Linked DNA regions of Homo sapiens. The protein of the gene in region 1 purifies or fractionates together with the protein of each later gene. This does not show direct contact. Each region holds a gene or a part of one and is shown on either strand. Other genes may lie near its edges.

Evidence for each region. Proteins that work in one complex are often made in the same cells at the same time.
Region 2: the proteins of TBC1D2B (region 1) and TFR2 purify together in Homo sapiens (affinity purification with mass spectrometry; one large-scale study listed by BioGRID and IntAct). This does not show direct contact.

What each region holds. Positions count from the first base shown.
Region 1 is NC_000015.10:78,018,712-78,022,211, reverse strand, and holds part of TBC1D2B (TBC1 domain family member 2B), read left to right. Parts: intron 1-3,500. UniProt on the Homo sapiens protein: GTPase-activating protein that plays a role in the early steps of endocytosis.
Region 2 is NC_000007.14:100,619,920-100,622,236, reverse strand, and holds the end of TFR2 (transferrin receptor protein 2), read left to right. Parts: exon of another isoform or gene 1-115; intron 116-1,110; coding exon 1,111-1,380; 3' UTR 1,381-1,817; downstream 1,818-2,317. UniProt on the Homo sapiens protein: Mediates cellular uptake of transferrin-bound iron in a non-iron dependent manner. May be involved in iron metabolism, hepatocyte function and erythrocyte differentiation.

The DNA.
Region 1 (3,500 bases):
CATTTTTATATTTTTAGTAGAGACAGAGTTTCGCCGTGTTGCCTGGGCTAGTCTTGAACTCCTGAGCTCAAGTGATCTGCCTGCCTTGGCCTCAGAATGCTGAGATTACAGGCATGAGCCATTGCATCCAGCAGACAGGTGAAATTTTTATTTTGCAAGTGTGTCTATTTCTGTAGTGCGTAGAACAATACTATAGTGGTGGGTTTCCAGGGCGTGCGTGACACTTGGCAGTGGGGGAGACGTGTGGAGCAGGTTTTCCCGGGGAGCGAGCCAGGGTGTGCGTGGAGGTTATGCTTCGTGGCTGTGGCGACTATGCAGCTCCTTCTGTAGACAGCTAACGGAGCTGATCGGGATACAGCGCTGTCAGAACAGGACATTCCCTCCTCTTTTCTTTTTGCAGCATAATGGGTGGAGTGGTTTTGAGCCATGAAGTTTTTTTCCTCCAACATTTCTCAACTTAACAAGTTTAGCAATTTTTAACAACTTAACAAGCCTGTGGCCCCAACATATCACAATTGTGAGGTGATGTGGCGACAGACGATGAAGAGGCAAAGTGGTTGTTAGGTGGATTCCAGGTGAGACAGTTGAGGCCTGCCTGGGTCCATGACCTCATGCTTTCTGACATTGCTCTGTTATTGCCAGTGCTGGGGGTCCCTCTGCAATGCAGAAGGTGTTCACACCTCATGCAGGTCTCCTCTGCAGTGGCACTGGGAGAACTGGAAAGGCTCCAGGGAGAAAGAGGGAGCGCACTGACAGAAGTGGGTGTTCTCGTGTGTGTTCCCTCATAGCCCTTCAGCTCTAGACAGGGTATGGTTGAGGAAGAAATATTGATTCCTACTTCTGATTCCAAATTTAAATGTCTAAGTGGAAAAATATATATATTTAAGATATATTTATTTAAAGTATATTTTATATATTTTTAATTTTAAAGATATGTTTATATATCTTTTTTGCTATTGCTGTTCTTGACCAGTTTTCATGCTTTATTGTCAGTGGATGCTGCCTGTAAAGATTTCTGCCATTTGGAATTTGTTAACTTTTTTTGGTGTGGTCTAATGCTTTTTGTTTCTATAGTATTCCGAGGCAGGAATAAACATTGGTCCTAGGATTTTGCCACCCTAGTGATTTAAGTCATTATTTCTCCATGTTTCCTTCCAATCCTTTTCTGTGTTTCCGTAATTCTTCCATTTTTGAAGTGTATGGACTTTCGGATTGTTCCATTCAACACTGTGGCCCCAGCACTTCCATATTGCTTTCATTAGCGATTTCAGTGTTGTCCATCCTTTGTGTTATCATTTACTTCATCCTTGTCTTTCTTCCTGCGTTTGCTGTTCCATGAATACCTCCGTGCCTACAGCTTCTCCTTCTTCCAGCTCATCTATGCATCCAGCTGTGTGCCCACCCTTTTACTCTGCACGGGTACACAGGCACTGCACTCCTGGGCCTCACAGTTTAGTTTAGAGGCACAAACAGAAAAGCAAAATGACAACTGGAGCAAGCACCAGGAGGGAAGGGGATGTGGAACAGCGTGGGGTGATGCTTTACATTGAGCATGGCCTCTGGAGCCAGCCCAGGTTGGATTCAAACCCAGATCACCACTTAGGACCTCTGACTTGGCCAGGTGAATTCATGTCTCTGCCTCAGTGTATTTGTCTGTGAAATAGTGCTTATTTTCCTCATAGGTATTGTGAGGGTTACAGGCGGTAATCCATGTAAAGCCCTCCCTCACACAGTGCCTGGCTCCTCATAAGGTCTTCACTGTTAGGTGTTGTTGCTGTGATCATCATCGTTCTAGAGAAAGTATCTGTAATATAAATGATCAGGACTTACTTAGACTGTAACACAAGTTTTAAGTTAAAGACATACATGGCGGCTGATGTTACTTGCTTTCACTGACCCCACCTTGTATCACTCAGTCTCTATCCATCACTGTTGAGTGCTTTCTTCAGTTGCCCTCCAGCCAGCTTTCCTTTGGCTGACCTGCCTTTTAGTAATATGTTTGCTTAATGTTTCCAAATATGAGACCTTTGGCCAGGTGCAATAGCTCATACCTGTAATCCCAGTGCTTTGGGAGGCCGAGGCAAGAGGATCACTTAAGGCCAAGAGTTTGAGACCAGCCTGGGCAACATAGTGAGATCTCATCTCTACAAAAAACATTAGCTGGGTGTGGTGGCCATGCCTTTGGTCCTAGCTACTCAGGAGGTTGAGGTGGGAGGATCACTTATGCCCAGGAGTTCGAGGCTGCAGTGAGCTATGACCATGCTACTGCACTCCAGCCTGGGCAAGAGTGAGACCCTGTCTCCCCCCCCCTTTTTTTTTTTTTGATACAGAGTCTCACTATTTCACCCAGTTTGGAGTGCAGTGGCATGATCTTGGCTCACTGCAGCCTCCACCTCCTGGGGTCAAGTGATTCTCATGCCTCAGAAAGGGTAGCTGGGACTATAGGTGTGCGCTATCACGTCTGGCTAAATTTTTTTTGTATTTTTAGTAGAGACAGGGTTTCGCCATGTTAGCCAGGCTGGTCTCAAACTCCTGGCCTCAAGTGATCCTCTTGCCTTGGCCTCCCAAAGTGCTGGGATTACAGGCATGAGTCACCATTCCCAGCCAACCTTGTTTCTTTAAAAAAAAAAAAGCTTTTAAGACACCAGTAGAAAGGAGATTCAGGTGAGAAAAGGAAGTCCAACATTCAACATTTCAAGTACTTGTCATGACGTGACAAGTACTTGAATGTGCTCAGGCTGAGTATGATGCCTATCGAAGTTCTAGTGGGAGTCGGGCCTGAGACCATGGAGCTAAGAGCCCACTGGTCTGGCTCTCAGAAGTCTGATTTGCAGGCTAGACAGTAACTGGGCAGCTTTCTATGGCTCAATTCTTCACCTCAAAAATAAAGATGGTGAGAATGGCTGCCTAAGAGTTGGAGTTTTAAACAAGATTAGGAATCTCACATGCCTAGCACGGGGCACCTGTAACCCATCGCAAGTGCTCCGTAAATGTTAGTGATTAAAGGGAACATTGAACCATTTTCAGTTCTTCTGCATTTTATGGGGGAAGTGGTATAATCCCGTGGTGGTTTCTTGTTTGGCGATGGGGAGTTTCTGTAGCCGCATCTCTGGGGAGCGGCAGCAGTCTCCTGCTTGTGATATCACCAGAGTCTGTCTTGACTACCCTGGCCTGCCGTTTGAGCTGTCTTGAACATAATTTCTTCTGTGACTGGGAGATTAGGAACCTCACACACCAGCCTGTCAGATTATAAAAGAGAAACAGAAGCTGGGGGAGAAGAGACACATTTATAAAAGACTAAATTTGTAAAGAACATTTAGAAGTCACTGCTCAGAGGTGATTCGGTTTAGTATCCTTAGCAGCTTCTTCAGTTCATTGTTTTTATTATTAGGAAAGTCTAAGGAAGTTTTCTGAGCTTCATTTTCAGTGTTTTACATGAAAACACTTCACCCCCTTTTTGGTTTGCTTTTTGTTGCTGTTGGATCCTTTCAGCTTTCTTG
Region 2 (2,317 bases), on another chromosome or scaffold:
TGAGTGAATGATGGAGGCCTTAAAAAGATGTGAGCATCTGAAAATCAGCTGGGTATGGTGGCACGTGCCTGCACTCCCAACTACTCAGGAGGCTAAGGCGGGAAGATCACTTGACCTCTGGGGTTTGGGTTGCAGTGAGCTGTGATTGCACCACTGCACTCCAGCCTGGGTGACAGTGAGACCCTGTCTCTAAAAATAAAAGATGTGAGCATCTGAGATCACCCCCTAGAGATTCTGATTTTACTGGGGCGGTGCCCAGGCAATGATAATTTAATAGGTACAGAGAAGAGGGAGGTGGAACTTTGAGACCTGCCCACGGGTGGAAGCAGAACAAACCAGAGATGGGGCTAGGAGAGGCTAGGAAACTAGGAGAGGCTGGCAGAAAGGAGGGAGGAGATTAGGTCAGGAGCAAGGCCGTCTCAGGAAAGACGGAACAGCAGCTGCGTCAGAGGGAGGAAAGCCAGGCTTTTCATGAGGACTGGACTGTCCCCTTGACCTTCGTCTCTGGGCTGTGGACATTGGTGGGGGTGGAGAATGACTCGGTGTGGGGAGGTGTGGTGTTAAGAAGGGAACAGCAGGGCGATAGATTGTTCTTTGAGGCTTTGAGCATTCACTGAATGGGTGAGGAAGGAAGACTCGGGAGAACTACATGCAGGCTTAGGGGTTCTAGAGATAGAAGGGGAGGCCTAGCGTGGTGGCTCACACCTGTAATCCCAGCACTTTGGGAGGCCAAGGCGGGCGGATCACTTCAGGTTAGGAGTTCGAGACCAGCCTGGCCAACACGGAGAAACCCCGTCTCTACTCAAAATACAAAAATTAGCCGGGCGTCGTGGCGGGTGCCTGTAATCCCAGCTACTCTGGAGGCTGAGGCAGGAGAATCGCTTGAACGCTGAAGGCGGAGGTTGCAGTGAGCCGAGATCGTGCCACTGCACTCCAGCCTGGGAGACAGAGCGAGACTCCGTCTCAAAACAAACGAACAAACAAAAAACAAACACAAAAAGAAAACAAACAAACAAAAAAACAAAAAGACTGGCTGGCGGGAAGGGTGACTCGGGCCTTTGCTCCCGAGCCAGAGCCCCCAACCCTGACCTGATCCCCCTCTCTGCGCAGGTGGAGTTCTACTTCCTTTCCCAGTACGTGTCGCCAGCCGACTCCCCGTTCCGCCACATCTTCATGGGCCGTGGAGACCACACGCTGGGCGCCCTGCTGGACCACCTGCGGCTGCTGCGCTCCAACAGCTCCGGGACCCCCGGGGCCACCTCCTCCACTGGCTTCCAGGAGAGCCGTTTCCGGCGTCAGCTAGCCCTGCTCACCTGGACGCTGCAAGGGGCAGCCAATGCGCTTAGCGGGGATGTCTGGAACATTGATAACAACTTCTGAGGCCCTGGGGATCCTCACATCCCCGTCCCCCAGTCAAGAGCTCCTCTGCTCCTCGCTTGAATGATTCAGGGTCAGGGAGGTGGCTCAGAGTCCACCTCTCATTGCTGATCAATTTCTCATTACCCCTACACATCTCTCCACGGAGCCCAGACCCCAGCACAGATATCCACACACCCCAGCCCTGCAGTGTAGCTGACCCTAATGTGACGGTCATACTGTCGGTTAATCAGAGAGTAGCATCCCTTCAATCACAGCCCCTTCCCCTTTCTGGGGTCCTCCATACCTAGAGACCACTCTGGGAGGTTTGCTAGGCCCTGGGACCTGGCCAGCTCTGTTAGTGGGAGAGATCGCTGGCACCATAGCCTTATGGCCAACAGGTGGTCTGTGGTGAAAGGGGCGTGGAGTTTCAATATCAATAAACCACCTGATATCAATAAGCCACCTGTTGACATCTGTTATTGATAAGCGCCTTCATGCTTCTTCCTCACCCTCATGCCCATCCCATCCCATCATCCCTTCCTAGAGACCTAGGGAATTGGGCAGAAGGGACCAGAGAGGGTGCACACAGGAATGCTGTCTCCACGGGGAAAACCGAGCTGTTTCTATCACTCAAGGAAAATGCCTAAGGAAATACTGAAGGCCCCTTCTCCAAAGACCACCATAAAGCAGGTGGTCTTTGGAGAAGGGGCCTTCGGTATCTTTTTTTATTTTTGAGACGGAGTCTCACTCTGTAACCCAAGCTGGAGTGCAGTGACACAATCTCGGCCCACTGCAACCTCCACCTCCCGGGCTCAAGCGATTCTCCTGCCTCAGCCTCCTGAGTAGCTGGGACTACAGGTGTGCACCACCACGCCCGGCTAAATGTTTTCGTATTTTAGTAGAGACGGGGGTTTCACCATGTTGCCCAGGGTGGTCTTGAACTCCTGAGCTCGGGCAA